Regions from separate parts of the Homo sapiens genome. Here region 1 is linked to region 2. A link means that fine-mapping ties the variant in region 2 to the expression of a gene that starts in the linked region. Tissue or cell type: whole blood. Region 2 holds a variant in brackets; the other region holds the start of a gene. All regions are shown on one strand. Distances are from middle to middle.

Region 1 (8,112 bases), 24 kb after region 2:
AATTTTTTTAAAATTTTCAACAAGTGAGAATTTTAATGAATTAAGGGAAAACACTAGTAATCTACTAAGCCTGAGAAGCAAAGATAAAAATTCCTTAAGAACAGCAACAAAGATAGCTTCCTCTTTAAGTTATGAAGGTGATTTCTTAAAATGTCAGCATTTCCTGAAATAATATTAAATATGCTCTGATTTTGCACTAATTTTCAATAATAGGAATTCTAGGTCAGAAAAAACTGCAAAATTAATATTTCTTTGTGACTTTCACTGACTGGCAAAGTAAAACTATGTTATAAATGTACTTGTAAAAGCAATAAACATGTATTTATCCTTTGCAATTAAATTGTTGAAGTAAATGATAAAACTGTTGAATATCTCAGTGGAGAGATAATTGAATATTTTATATGAGCAAGCACTCTCCCCTAGAATTTGTCATGTATTCTGATTTTATAGCTGCTAAAAATAGAATTGTTTTTCAAATTTAATCATTCAAAAAATTTTTGATTATTAGTTTTTGGCCATAAATAAATAGACAGCTTTTTCATGTCTCATTGTCATATTTAAAAAGAGGTGCTTTTGAACAAAATCAGTTGTCCTATAGGCAGCACAAGGTACTCAGTAGGGGTCTAAATATTAAAAAGAATGACATTTTTTTTTTTTTGTGAGTCAGATAAATTTTACATAAGGTTGAATAGTACTAGAGCTTCAGGATTTGATACCATGTTTTCTACAATTCTGCTCACTCTCTGTGGCCCCTTAATACTTCTTGTCCCTGCTTAAAACAACAACAACAACAGCAACAACAAATCTCTTCAGGCCATTTCTTTAATCCAAAGATACACTGTTATGTAGATGTCAACTGGGTCATATTTCACTATAAAAGAATAGAGCGACTTCATTAGCTTAAACATATATATCGACAATATGTTCGACTCATTCTTCTCATGGCTACCAATTAAAATCTAGCAGAAAACCATTAAATTGTTAAAATAAGATGCAAACTAAGCAGAATGAAGCAACTATAGGTTGTTTATCTATCACCAGGAAGACATGCTCAATCTTTAAGAGAAATCATGATCTCATGATCTACTTGCTCATATAACATTTCATTGAGTCAATCTAAAATTCCTCAAGTGCTCTCTAAAAATCTAGTTTCTGATAGGTGTTACATTTTTTGAAATTTTGGAGAAAACAACCACAGTCTCCTTCCCTATAGGTGTTTCTAGGAAGTTTGGTAAAATTTTGACAATTAGCAGTGGATTTCCCCAGCGTTCTTGAGAACTGGTCAAATTCTACTGAAGTTCAGACTTACAAATATTTTCCCCTCTTTTTTTTCCCAACTTATTTTTCTGCCTGGGGCGTTCGTTTTATAACCAAAGTTATACTGGCACCCCTGTTTTTAAAACCTTTTTGAGTCAACTGTGGTAACACCTAATTCCAGACTCAACCTTAGTGGCAGAAATTGTAAAGCAACTGAGAGGATTCATGCTCTGGTAGGCTTTTAAATATGAAGAGTTTACTTTCTCTTTTATCCTGTACAGTATAATCAGCAATAAAAGTTATCTCTTGGGGGATGAAGAATAAACCAAGGTATAAACTGCAAAAGACATGTTTACCTAGGTATATTGCATTACCCCCCAATGAAAAACTGCACATTCCTAAATATATAAATGAATAATAAGGACCACTTATCATGCATGCAATTTTTTTTTACTACTACTGTACTTTTGATTAAATTTCTGAAATAGTCCTAAAATAGAACTCATGAGTTCAGGTTGTGGCTGTAAACATAAAACTCTCTGTCAGTCCAAGTGGAAATGGTGTTGCCACCTTGAGTATTTGGAAAAATAGAAGAAAGAGTTTGCTACAAATATCCCAGTAGCAAAATATTTCCTGCCAATTGCACATGGTGCAATTTGTCATCTCACATCCATGCTCCTGGGCGTACCTGTCTACAGACGATCCTCTTGTTCCGACCAGTACTCAACAGAAGATGGCGAGGACCGTGTCTGTCGTGTCTATGCTCGTGGCTGCAACCCCAGCATCTAGCATAGCGTCAGGCACAGGACCAATGCTCAATGTGCCTGGCCCTGTGTGGAATAGAAGCAAATTAGTGCACAGCCCTAATGTGCAATGTGCGGTGAAACCTAACAGAGGAATGAGTTAGGTCAGGAGAGCAGCAGGCTGGGGAGTGTGTAACAAGCCTGGCCCACTTTTGGTATTTTGCCTAAAAATTTCCCATGCGGTGTTTCAAATAATATAAACAAATGAGGTGATTTAACTTCTAAAACTTTATTTTGCTTTGAAATGCAAACTTTTAACAAATAGCTACATAAATTCCTTTTTCGATAACCATGAAAGAGGACATATTCACTTAAAATAGAAATCATGCCAGGTAATAAAATGTTCAGTATGGTAATTCATTAAAGCAAGTACTAAGTACATTATTCACATGGCTATAAAAGCACCATCACTTTTCATGTGTTTATTAATTTTAGGCTCAAGGGTATTAAAATATTCTCGCTCTGTCTCTCCTTTTTCCCCCTTTTTTTTGGTTCCATTTCATCCTTTTTTCTGTCTACATGGAAATATGCTTACCTTGCTTTAGGTAAATACATTAGTGAACACAAAACCAAGTGACATATTTCAGCAAATTTGGGTACATTTTATATACAATGAAACAATCTTGGAAATCCAAGAACCCCTACCAGAAAGAAAAAGCAGAACGCCTCCTTCAGTTAGATAAAGTGCCTCTCTCTACTTTTTGTTGTTGTTTCTTTATTTGTAGATTTCTTGCTTAACTCTGAAACTTCCTGAGATATTTTATTAAACCCTATACCCTATTTTGGAAGCTCATTTATTTTCTAAGAAATCTTGGCAGAATATATGTTCTCATTTTAATTGCATAATTATCTGGAGCGGTGGAAAACAGATGTCTTATATTGATGTAAGCACTAACAAAACCATAGGTGTTGTTTTCATATGACTCACCTTGCCACGGATTTGCACATCTCACTTACTGAGCCAAAACACAAGAATAGAAGGTTATACCCAGAATCAACATGACCTGCCTAATGATGCAAGTTTAATGGGACCATTATTAGTTCTGTCCCTGCTAATAATAATAGAATTATAAGGAGTTTTGTTTCCCCTTTTTGTTGTTTACAAGTTTGTCATATATTTAGAAGTCATTGTTTCTTGCTTTTCCTAACCCTCCTCCCCACCCTGGGTGTAGTGAAATTATTAGGAGGTGGAGCACAGGGTATTGTTACAGCCCATGTCATAGAAAAAAGATATTTATTTGCTTACTCTGTGGTGAGTGAAGCATTTGATTCCCACTTACTGAGAAATGCGGTGGCCATGCGATGAGAAGCAGCGGCAGGGCATTGAGAACGAACCTTATCTCTGGGTGCACTTTTTAACTTAGAGGCGGTTCTTCACTCTTTCATCATCACGGCTGTAATGGTTAAAAACTCTCAGGCAGCTTCCTTCATGATGGGATGGCAACACGTTTTCTCTAAGCAAATATGGAGGAGGATTTGTACAGAGCAACTGTGCAGGAGCTGAACTGGAACTCCCAACAACCAAACTGCTGTCAAACGAAAGAATCTCTCGTCCAGATAGCCATTATCTGATAACTGTCTTGTCTGCATTTTCACTCTCTTTCAGAGTTGGTTTGCTCTCTTCAGGAGTGGGAATTAACTTTTACTCATGGTGACAAGGTAAACAAGTTTTCCGTGGGTACTCTAAAGCGTTGCATTTCTGTTTTGTTTATGTGCCTTGTTTGGCTACAGTAGTTACTGTGCCTCTGTCTCCTAGGCAACACTGACACATGATTTGATAGGAAGTAAGGCCTGAGGAGTACCCTCTCCCCACTCACTAGGCAATAGCAGCAATTCTCTGCCCTTAGAGAACCGCCTTAGCTCTTCTCTGCTTTGTGAGCAGGTCTGGTACCCTCAAGTAAATATGTGTGGGGGATGCGTTTCTGGGTGTGATAAATTGCTGCTGTCTGTCACCTGAGATCATCCTACACAAATTGTAACAATGGCAGTGTTGGTCTGTGGGTGCACCCAAGACCACCTTCCTCACGTCACATCCATTTTACCACCCAGCTGTCTTCAGAATGCTTCAATTTCAGCAAACCTCCTTGGCTTTTCCTGTCCTTTGTTCCATTTCTGTTTGATTCCTTCTGGGGAATTTCGAGGTGGCTAGCTAGCAAAGCTGGCTTTAAAAAAGTAGCTTAGCGTGTGAATAGATAAGAGTAGTGCTTATTGTATGACCCACGGCAGAGAGTAGTAAGTAGTTGCCTTTGGAAGGAGACCTTCAGTCTAGCCTAAGCGATGAGTGATGCAGGATTCCCTGTCTCCTTAGGAGCTGACTGGGAGAGTCTCAGACAGAGCAGATGCAGAAAGATGGTGGCCCAGGTTGGATCAGTGGTTCTGTTTGTGAGATGAGAGACAGGCTTCCTGGAGGCAATTTCCAAAAGGCTCAGTGTAGAAGCTGTGCAAGTACAGTCAGCGTGTGTGCCTGGGGTTCCCAAGGTGACCATTTTAGCAGTTGCCAAAATGAAACCGGAGCAATTGTTATCAGGTTGAAAATTGTTGTCAGACCTGAAAAATGTGATTTTCCTCGGGGAAAGGGGAAGTAAAACAAGGAACAGAGAGAGATCCATTTATTTGCTAAGAGGCACCCAGAAAAGTTTAGATATAGTATCAACTATCTGGCCTACTCTTTTAAGTCCTGCCCATCTGTTTATACATGTAACATATTTGTCACTAATGAAACCTTAAAAATACTTATTAATCATTGGGAAGACAGTAATTTCTGGCTTAAAAGCCTGCTTTAATGGCCTCTCTCCGTATATATATATGTATATTTTTTGAGATGAAGTCTCACTCTGTCGCCCAGGCTGGAGTGCAGTGGCGCAATCTCTGCTCACTGCAACCTCTGCCTCCCAGGTTCAAGCGATTCTCTTGCCTCAGCCTCCCGAGTAGTTGGGATTACAGGCACCCGCCACCACGCCTGGCTAATTTTTTGTATTTTTGGTAGAGATGGGGTTTCACCATGTTGGCCAGGCTTGTCTCAAATTCCTGACCTCAAGTGATGCACCCGCCTTGGCCTCTTAAAGTTCTGGGATTACAGGTGTGAGCCACCACACTCAGCCAATGGTCTGTATATTTCTTACATTCATTTACTCAAATATTCATTGAATGCACCTATGCACTATGCTAGGCGCGGTGAAGGGTATAAAGAAAATTAGATCTGGCTGCTCCTTCCATACCACCTTCCTGGGTATATGATCTTTAATTAACTACGCCAATAAAAACAAACAAACAAACAAAGCAAACACATGCTCATACAGAAACACTGTCTCTATGTTTCTGTATAAGCACAAACGAAAAAATGAGAGGCAGGGACTTTTTTTTTTTCTGGCGGGGGGTTGCGGGGGGGTTGTTTGTTTGTTTTGAGATGGAATTTCAGTCTTGTTGCCTAGGCTGGAGTGCAATGGCGCGATCTCAGCTCACCACAACCTCCACCTCCCGGGTTCAACCGATTCTCCTGCCTCAGCCTCCTGAGTAGCTGGGATTACAGGCCCCCGCCACCACACCCAGCTAATTTTTTTGTATTTTTAGTAGAGATGGGGTTTCACCACGCTGGTCAGTCTGGTCTTGAACTCCTGACAGGTGATCCACCCACCTCGGCCTCCCAAAGTGCTGGGATTACAGACGTGAGCCACTGAGCGAGGCCTGTTTGGTTTTTTATGGCAATAATTTAATTCTTTATAATAAAGTGTAAACGTCCAAAGACAGTATGATAGAACATGCTGGAAGAATTCACAAAAGTCGTTTTTTTAAAAAGTGAAATTAAATGTGTCTGCATCCTTTAAGCAAAACAATGTGAGTTTAGCCAAATAGAAATATGAATAGTAATAAAACGAAAATCATGGTTCAGTGGCTCTACCATGAACTTTGGTTAAAGGAGCTTATTAAAGGTATCAACTTCTAGAACTTGATTCCATGGAAATAATGGAAAAATGTAGATCAAGATTTATACAAAAGAGAGCAAAATTCATTGTACCTTTACAATAGTAAAATAGTAAAAGTACTATAGGAATGGTGAAGAGAAATATGTAACTGCTCAAGGTTGAAATATGTGATGTGGATGTCAAAAGGAATGTTTATCAATAACTTTTTTTTTTCTTTTGAGACAGGGTGGTGCCCTGTCACCCAGGCTGGAGTGCAGTGGCAGGATCTCGGCTCACTGCAGTCTCTGCCTCCTGGGTTCAAGTGATTCTCGTGCCTTAGCCCCCGGAGTAGCTGGGATTGCAGGCATGTGCCACCATGCCAGATAATTTTTGTATTTTTAGTAGGGAGAGGGTTTCACCATGTTGGCCAGGGTGGTCTCAAACTCCTGGCTTGTGATCCTCCCACCTTGGCCTCCCAAAGTGCTGGGATTACAGGTATGAGCCAATCAAGAACTTTTAATAACATAGGGTATTATGAAAAAATGTTAAGTAAAAACAACAGGAGGGTATACACACATGTAATTTTTTTTTACAGTCTTATTTTTGGTCAGAAGATCAGACTAACAGGAATAGTTATCTCTAAGTGGTAGGTGTATTAGTCAGCTATTGCTACAGAACAAGCAACCACAGAACCCTCAGTGGTAAACTGTGATAGGCATGTATTTGTAGCCCATGTGTCTGAGTTTTGACTGGGGTCTGCTTAATCTTGGGCTGGGATCCAGATCACAAAGTGAGTTCAGATTTGTTCCAAGTATCTGCCATTCATTTGGAACCAGTGGCTACCCAGGGCATAATCTTTTTATGGTGACAGCAAAAGTGCAAGAGAGCAGGACCAACTGCACAAGCACGCATCAAGCATCTGCTCATGTCACATTCCCTGACATCTCAAGAGGCTGAGCAAATTGCATGGCCAAGCCCGGAGTCAAATGGACGAAGCCCAAAGTACATTCCACCATGATAAGGCCATGATAAGGATGTGGACATGGACAACTCCTAGTGGGGAGTGAAGAAATGGGACCAACAGTTCATTCTACCACGGCAGGGTTAGTGTTTCTCTTACTTTTATTCTGTGTTTCTATATTTACAAACGTTTTATTCTGTACAAATGCAGGCAGAAAAAGTTATTTTAAAAAATATTAGAGACATACAGATCAATTTAATAGAATTGAGAGTCAAAAATAAACTCTCGCATTTAGGGTCAATTGATTTTTGACAAGAGTGTCAAGACAATTCAGCGGGGAAAAGATCAGCCTTTCAATAAGTGGTGCATATCCACATGCAAAAGAATGCCTCGCAGCATAGACAAAAATGAATTCCAATGGGATCAAAGACCTAAAAGTAAGAGGCAAAACTATAAAATTCTTAGAAGAAAACATAGGCATAAATCTTCATGACCTTCATTTTGTTTCTTTCTTTTTTTTTTTTTTTTTTTTTGAGACAGAATCTTACTCTGTCGCCTAGGCTGGAGTGCAGTGGTATGATCTCAGCTCACTGCCAACTCCCCTGCCTCCTGGATTCATGCGATTCTCCTGCCTCAGCCTCCCGAGAAGTTGGGATTACAGGCGTGTGCCACCACACCCGGCTAAGTTTTATATTTTTACTAGAGATGGGGTTTTGCCATGTTGGCCAGGCTGGTCTCGAACTCCTGATCTCAGGTGATCCACCCACCTTGGCCTCCCAAAGAGCTGGGATTACAGGCATGAGCCGCCGCACCTACCCAATGGTTTCTTCAATAAGATACAAAAGCAGACACAACAAAAGAAAAAAATAGATAAACTGGATTTCACCAAAATTAAAAGCTTTTGTGCTTCAAAGGATACCATGAAGAAAGTGAAAAAAGACCGGATGCAGTGGCTCACGTCTCTAATCCCAGCACTTTGGGAAGCCAAGGTAGGCAGATCACCTGAGGTCAGGAGTTTAAGACCAGCCTGACCAGCATGGTGAAACCCTGTCTCTACTAAAAAACACAAAAATTAGCCAGGTGTGGTGGCAGGTGCCTGTAATCCCAGCTACTCAAAGGCTGAGACAGGAGAATGGCTTGAACTCGGGAGGCGAAGGTTGCAGTGAGCTGAGATCGTGCCACTGCACTC
Region 2 (8,000 bases):
AGTATAGTCTTAATTTGAATTCTGGGGTCTCCAACCTTGGAGATTAAAAAAAAAGTATTTCGAGGTAATTTGACTCTCTGCTCTGACTCAAGGAGAATACCTTTCTTGCCATTAAAAAGGAAGTCACAGATGTTTCTTTTCAAGAAATCAATGGGCACTGCCATTTGGTTATGCAAAGATGGGTTTCAGAAAGAAGAAGTCACACAGCCTATTCTTGTAAGGAGGAGAAGCTCTCCAGACTCCCCATTTGATTCCTGGGTGCTTTTTAGGCATCACTAACGTAAAGCATTTGGGAAATTCAGTTGTCTGGTGTCTGGGGACCTCAGTTTCCATTATTTTTGACATCTTAAGCATTTGACCTTGCAAATAAGCCAATAGTCTGCTATTCTTCTATGACCCTAGAATGTATATGGAGTGGGACATGGGGTGCAGGTGGGCTGGGACAGTGGCAACACAGAGGGCAGAAGGACTGCAAGTATTGGACCCAAACTAGTCCCAGCTCTGCCTCTGGGAGCTTTGTCAAGCCACTTCCCTTTTAGGGCTGCAGTCTCTCTTGATCTAGAATTCTATGATGTATGAAGTTTAGACTACTAGCTCTTAGGAGATGAATTTGATTTGGAAGCCTGTTACACCTTAAATTCTGCATGTAAGTATGAACTTTCAGTGCTTACATATTGATTTTGAATCTGATTTCAGACTCAACAATAGGTTTCCAGGGAAAAGAGCTAATTAGTAAATTGATGGGATGCTTCCAACAGAGCAGGCCTGCTGTGTTTTTAGAGCCAGCAGGTGCTGGGAGAAGTTCAAATGGCACCAACAGGGTTGGATAATTGAGAGGATGTCAATATGGCAGTCTATGATACAGGGTTTAACTAGCTTCCTGTGACTTGCCTCCAGTTGGAGGGGAGAATGGCATCATTCATGAATGAACATCCCAAACCAGATCACAGGCTTCCAGTGCAGGCAAGTCAGGAGCAGACCTTTTGGGTGAGTGAGCTTTCAAGGCAGCTGTCAAATGGACTGTGGGAGGTACCTGGTTTAGAGAAATAAAAAGAGGGCAGCAAAATGCAGCCTCAGTGAACAAAATGTGTAGAGTAGTGAAGGACCCGGATCACACACACAGCTTGCACTATGTTCATCTGGTGGAACTGGGCTTGCATTAACCGAATAGAGAGAGGAAATGGAGACTGTGTATTTGTGTACGTGTGTGTATTTGTGTGCATGCGTGTATTTGTGTGTGCATTCAGGATCAGCTGGATGGCTCACTGCAGTACTGCTTGTCTGCAATATCCCCCAGTAGGACTAGACTTGATGAAGTTGAGTGGGGAATTCCTCATGGCAGTTTTCTTCTCTGCAGGCTTTCCCACAAAGCACCAAGGGCTATGTACCTTCTGGAGCCCCCCAAGCAACCCAGAACTTTCTTCCCTATAAGGGGTTGCTGGGCCTATTTTATCAACCTGCTAAAGCAGATGAAAGCTGGCTGCAGAGGATGTAGTCATCACATAGAAGTAAGCAACAAGGGATAAAGAGGGTTAGTCCTAGACCAAGTGTGGTGGCTCAGGCCTGCAATCCCAGCACTTTGGGAGGCCAAGGTGGGTGGATCACTTGAGGTCACGAGTTCAAGATCAGCCTGGCCAACATGGTGAAAATGCTGTCTCTACTAAAGATACAAAATTAGCCAGGCGGGGTGGCATGAGTAATTCCAGCTACTCCGGTGGCTGAGGCAGGAAAATTGCTTGAACCCCCATGGGAGGTGGAGGGTGCAGTGAGCTGAGATCATTGTGTGACTGCCCTCCAGCCTGGGTGAGAGAGTGAGACTCCATCTCATAAAAAAAAAAAAAAAAAAAGGTTTAGTCCTGGTTCTGCCACTTGCTACCAAAGTGACCTTCGGCAGGGTAGCCTCTCCAGCTTCTATGTCCTGCATTATAAAACAGGGATAAGGATCGAATGAATTAACACATGTGAAGTGCTTAGCACAGTGCTGGTACACAGGTGCTCAATAAATATTACTTACTATAATTACGATTAGGATGAAATGCATTGTGTCAACAAATTCATCAAGATAATTTCCCTTTCATCAAAGCAAGGCCAAAATTGGAGTGCTATCAGAATTCTAAAAATGCAGAGAGATAAACTCAGGCCAGGAGAAATAAACACACACCAAATATTCTAGATACTGAGGAACAGAAAAGGGTATGGGTATTCCTACCCTTCAAGGATTTAGGGTTCAAAATGTTCATTAAGATGAATCTTATGAAGAACTTGGACAGGAACATTTAGACAAGAATGGCCTGAAGAGGCTAACTTCATTCCCAATGGCTTGTCTGGATGGAGGCTGACAGGGTCAAGAGCTGGCAGAGCTTCCTGCTTGCACAGCCCCCAGCCCCTCTTGCTGAGTGTGGCCCATCCTCCAGCCTCAGTTTCCCTGGCTGGAGTAATAGCCCCCGGGGCAATGGAACATCTCGAAAAGAACCCAGGTGTGGAGCCAATCCTCTAGCTGTGTTCCAAACCCGGATGTCCCACCTACTATCTGTGTAGCTTCCAGCAGTTCCTTCACCTCTCTGCATCTGTTTTCTCACCTGTGTGATTAGGAAATCATGTGTGTGATGATAAAAGATGATGTAGATGAATATGTCCTGCACAGGGGCTGGCCCCCTGACAGCATCCCTCCCTCCCACAAGCTGCCATCCCTCCATGAGGCAGAATGTATGCCTAGAAGGGTGATGTAGGCACCAATAGAGGTGGCTGCGCCTGAAAGCACTGTGGGAACTCCCTGCTCCTGGCATTTGGAGATGAAATCTGAAAGGTCCCTGTTAGGCCTCCTTCAGGCTAGTGGGATGACCACAGGCGTGAGGCAGTCCGCCCCCCCTGGTGGGAACAAATGGTGGGGCTGCCAGGTGGGATCTAACCAGCCTGGACAAAAGGAAGCAGTGTGACCAAGCCATCTGTCTACACAGGGAAAGCAGAACCACAATAAGCTGTGTTAGTCTTAGGTAAGCCTAAGTGGGTCTTTCATGTTGTTATTGGGTCAACTCTTGTTACTTTTAAGCAATTTCTGCTACTGTGTAGACCCAGTGGCTCCCATCTGTAACCTCAAAAGAGTTTTGCAAGATTATTTTGGAAGGCCTAGGGATAGCTCATGTGGACCCTCCTACAACATTTCCCTTTCATCTTCCTTCGTGTTTTGCCACAGTGTGAGAATTTAACAAGAAAAAGCTGCTGAAGGAGAGTGACGGGATCAGGAGAGACAGAGAGAAGGGATTAGAGCTCCAGGTGGGAGTCAGAGTGCAAGGAATCAGGTTGGAGCTGCGGGACCTTGGCACAATGCAGGCAAACTGGAAAATGAAGATGCATTTGATGGTCCCAAAGGTGACTTCAGTTTTTGATTCCAGGTGCCCAGGACAAAGGTACCAAGTCACCTCACACATCAGCCCATGAATATCAAGTCAAAAGAAAAAGGCACAGGAGTTTCTCTGGGGTGGCCTTCCTTCCAGCCCATATTGCCATAGGCCACCCTGATACCCTACCTCAACCCATTTTCCTTAAGTCCTAACAGATTCTAGGATGTGTCACGGGACTCTGAGACCCCCACTCCACCAGCTCAAACTCCGACAGGAAAGCAAAGGCCAAGATTTCCTATGAACAACACATCTCTATGTTTAAGGAGCTGTCTGCTGTGCCCCTGTCTGCTGTGACCTCATGAATGAGTGATCTGAAAATTGCTGTGACCTCATGAATGAGTGATCTGAAAACGGTGCTGAGTCTTCTACTCCCCTGGGTGTAGGTGCCATACATCTCAAGACTAACGAAAGTCAAATTTGGGCCATCAAATTTTGCTTTCAGTGAGGTCAAAGCAAAACTCCATCGTTTCTTTGAAGGGCAATTGCAGTGATTGTAGTCTGTCACAGAAGAAGCAGTTCTCAGAACCACTGATCCTGACCAAAGACACGGCCAGAAATAAGTGCAGGGTAGACCCACATAAGTCTCTTTTCCTCAAGCAAGGATATGACTATGGAAAAATTTATTTTCATCATTCCTCGTTTCACACTTGGCATTTGAGCTTCATGGATGGCGGGAAGAAGAGAAGATGATGGACTTGAGAAAACACACAGCTTCATGAAGACCAGGGTCAGGAAACAAAAGGTTTCGATAAACAGGAGACAGCAAAGATAACAAAGGAACAGAAGAATCCGGAAGTTAAG[A/G]AAGTTTAAAAAGGAGAAAGACATGTAAAAATTGGGAAGTTAGCTCTTAAGATAAGACAGAGAAGCCAGCTGATCTAGGGCAGGTGATAACGAGTACTGATAAAATGAAACTGCTACTTCCATAAAAAAAAAAATCCCAGCCCAGCTATAGTCCCAGCTACTCAGGAGGCTAAGGCAGGAGGATTGCCTGAGCCCAGGAGTTCGAGACCAGCCTGGGCAACATAGTGAGACCCCTCATCTCTTAAAAAAAAATTCTGAATCAAATTGTAGGCCTCATTTAGTTTTTTGAGAAATCTTCCAAAGGAGAAGTCACTATATCAAAAAGACACCTAACGTGCATGTTTATCACAGCACCATTCACAATTGCAAAGATATGGAATCCACCTAAGTACCTATCAACCGATGAGTGGATAAAGAAAATGTGGTAAACATACACAATGAAATACTACTCAGCTGTACAAAAAGAATGCAATAATGTCTTTTGCAGCAACTTGGATGGAATTGGAGGCCATTACCCTAAGGAAAGTAATCAGGAACAAAAAACCAAATACCATATGTTCTCACTTATAAATGGGAGCTAAGCTTTGGGTACACAGAGGCATACAGAGTGGTATAATGAACATTGAAGACGCAGAAGGGGAGAGGGTGGGAGGAGCATGGGGGATGAAAAGTCACCTATTCAGTATGATGTAAACTATTTAGCTGATGGGTACAATAAAAGCCCAGACTTAACCACTATGCAATTCATCCATGTAACCAAAAACCACTTGTACCCCTAAAGCTGCTGAAATAAAACAATTGTTTTTAATTTAAAAAATTCCATGCTCTGGAAATTCTAGGACAGGAGAGCCAATCAGGCACTGTTCAGAGCAAGCAAAGAGCACTCACTTGCTAACTATACCCCCTCCCTGCTGTCCCCTGTGCTCCTTGGCTGGCCAGGGACCTTACCAACAGAGCTGGACAGCACCCCCAGCCTCTCCCAGCTCACCTTATCTCATCAATCAAAACTTACTCTGTGTCTCATTTTTTAAATTAAATAACCTTGGGCTATAATGGGTTAATTAGTTAATCAAATCTATTCTAATTCACTGATTGGCTCATATGTCATCTATTTGAGAAAATTGTATATTAATAGCCACTTCTTGGCTGTTTGACAACTGCTGAGTCATTTAGTATCTCAGGACCTCCATTTTCTTACATTAAAATAATGGGGGGGAAATTAATAACTATGAAAGGGTTGATATTTGAGTTGAGTCTTGGAGTAAAATGGAGTGGGAGGGCTACAGCATGCTGTTTTTAAGATAAGGCAAAAGAGGAGAAAGCATAGTTAAAGGAAATGAATGTAGCAGCAAAATCGCCTGATGGACTCCTAGCTGAGTATAATTATTGCTGCATCCTCAAGGGATAAAAAAGAGCCATGCAAAATGTCCCAGAGGGGCTTGGACTTCCTATTACGTTTATTAATCATCTTGATGAAAATGGAAAGTCTACATTGATTAAATTCACTAATGATCCTAAACTGAGCAGAGGAGTAAATTCCAGAAAGGATGGATTTATAAGGTGAGTAGTAATATTAATCAGCTCATCTTCATGAAAAGGATGGCAGTAAATGAAATGGGATTTGCTATAGATAATGGCAACGAGGTACACCTGGGGGAAAACTATAATGAGCCCAGATTCAAACTAGGAAGGTGTTATTTAGGAAATAATAATGGTAAGAGAGCTCTAAAGTGGAGAGTGAATAATAAATTAAAAACAAGCTTAAAATAAGCGCTCGTTATGGATCACAATTTCACTCTCAGCACTTTTGCAGTGGGGTGGTGCAGAGGAGGTGAATGTGAATGGCAGAGGTGGAAGCAGGTTTGTAGTGCAGCACTTATATTTTACAGGTGAGGATGCTAAGCCCAGAGAGGTTAGGTGTAGACTGACTAGGCCAGGGTGGAAAAACCCTGTCATGCTCGTCACCACTCTGTCCCTTGCAGTGGTGGCAGGAGATCACGATTCCTTCTGACAATCTAAATTTAGCCTCAGAATCCTCAATGCTGCACTCTAAGCAGTCTCTGATTACTTTGCTCACAAAACATTACCTTTTGTCATCTCTAGCTTATAACATAGAGCTAGATGTTGGCAGAGCCGTAGCTAAAAACCTAGATGTCCTGAATATCTAGTGCTTCTTTTTCACCTAATACGTTCTAAATTCTCTACAGTCAACATTGACTATGACTTCAAAAGTCAAAGACTCAGAAAGCATAACTAACTTCTTATCTAGGATTCTGACCTTGGTATCCATCATCTTGGTTTAAGTTTCCTTAGACAGCATTTTAAAATCTCCAAAATTGAATACATATAGAGAGAGGTGTTGGGAAGACACTTAGAAATAGCAATAGTTTTGAGCCAGTGAGTTTTGTGCCCCTGGGGAGTAACATAAAGCATTTTTAAAAAGAAGTCTATTGAATTCAAGTAACAAAAATTAAACTTCCACCTTAGGCATTTGACAAAATTAATGACCTTGTTAAAAATTCCCTGAGACTGATTAATGCTTCTCGTATTTGTTTCCCTCCTGGGGAACAGAGTGAATTTTCCTGGTGCAAATGGAGCCATGTCGAGGAAAGTCCTGTGTGTGCTGGGTCAGTTTAGTTAGGTGGGGGCATCAACCTAGGGAGGAGGGGAGGGAGGGGAAGATTGGTCTCAACAGAATTATGAAGCAGGTGAGTTTAGCCCATTCTCACTTCCTTTTAGTGTCCTTTCAGTTCCCTCTCCCCAGGAAGGCTCATGCTGCTCCTGTAAGTCTCTCTGAGTGATGTGAGGGCTACCCCTGTAAGGCTGAGCTGGTTGTGTGTTGCACAACTTTAGGGGACGCTATTCTCCCTTGGGAACTCGGTAACTTAGCACGACCAGCCCCCTGGCAGATTCAGAACAGTTCTCCATTTATTAGGCCTTTCCTTATCTTTCCCAGTCTTCAGTGGAAATCTACCTGCTGTGTGTCAGATCGGAGTCATTTTCACATGGGCTGATGGGTCACTGCCCGAGACTTTCCTGAAGACCTACCCCATAGCTTAAGCGAATGAATTAAATAGTAGAACATTTTGGCATGTGCCTGAACTAAATCTCTCCTATGTATACTCTTCCAATGGTTGATGAATACCTCATAGGATTCATGAGAGATGGCATCCACATGCTTGATCACCCATAATCACAAAGGTTGGCTACCAAGATGTCTTTTTTTTTTTTTGAGATGTCGCCCAGGCTGGAGTACAGTGGCGCAATCTTGGCTCACTGCAACCTCTGCCTCCTGGGTTCAAGTGATTCTCCTGCCTCCCGAGTAGCTGGGACTACAGGCGCGCACCACCACGCCCAGCTAATTTTTTGTATTTTTAGTAGAGACAAGTTTCACCATGTTAGCCAGGATGGTGTCGATCTCCTGATCTGCCCACCTCGGCCTCCCAAAGTGCTGGGATTACTGGTGTGAGCCACCGCACCCATCCCCAAGATCTCTTAAATAAGACTTTAATCTACCCAGCACTTTAAAGCTTGCAGAATCCTGTCCCACCATGCCAGAGTGTCCAGAGATCAAGTGCTAGAGTCAGTTAATCTGGGGTTAGAGCCCCATCCCTGCCACTTGTTGGCCATGCAGAACAGAGTTAAGCCAATTACCTAAACTTTCCAAACAAGTTTTTTGATAGGACTAAGATTATGTATTTAGCATAGTGCTTGGCAAAATAAATAAAAATTAAAAAACACATGTAATCTGCTATCCCTGCTGTTGTTTTTATTTCAGATACGGTGTGGGGCAGGAAA

What was found. PIP is the estimated chance that this variant, and not a neighbour inherited with it, causes the effect.
Region 1: IL5RA starts here. The variant in region 2 is fine-mapped to the expression of IL5RA in whole blood (TOPMed, PIP above 0.99).

What each region holds. Positions count from the first base shown.
Region 1 is chr3:3,106,605-3,114,716 of GRCh38, forward strand. It overlaps IL5RA (interleukin 5 receptor subunit alpha), which reads right to left and starts at 3,770. Exons shown (of 12, transcript NM_175726.4): 1 at 3,341-3,770; 2 at 1,946-2,087. RefSeq lists a silencer at 2,936-3,055 and an enhancer at 3,136-3,215.
Region 2 is chr3:3,082,226-3,090,225 of GRCh38, forward strand. All of the region lies in intron 9 of IL5RA (interleukin 5 receptor subunit alpha), which reads right to left. Among named protein-coding and RNA genes, the nearest start is that of IL5RA, 24 kb to the right of the region's middle. RefSeq lists a silencer at 6,857-7,026. The variant A/G (reference allele first, on the strand shown) is at 4,203.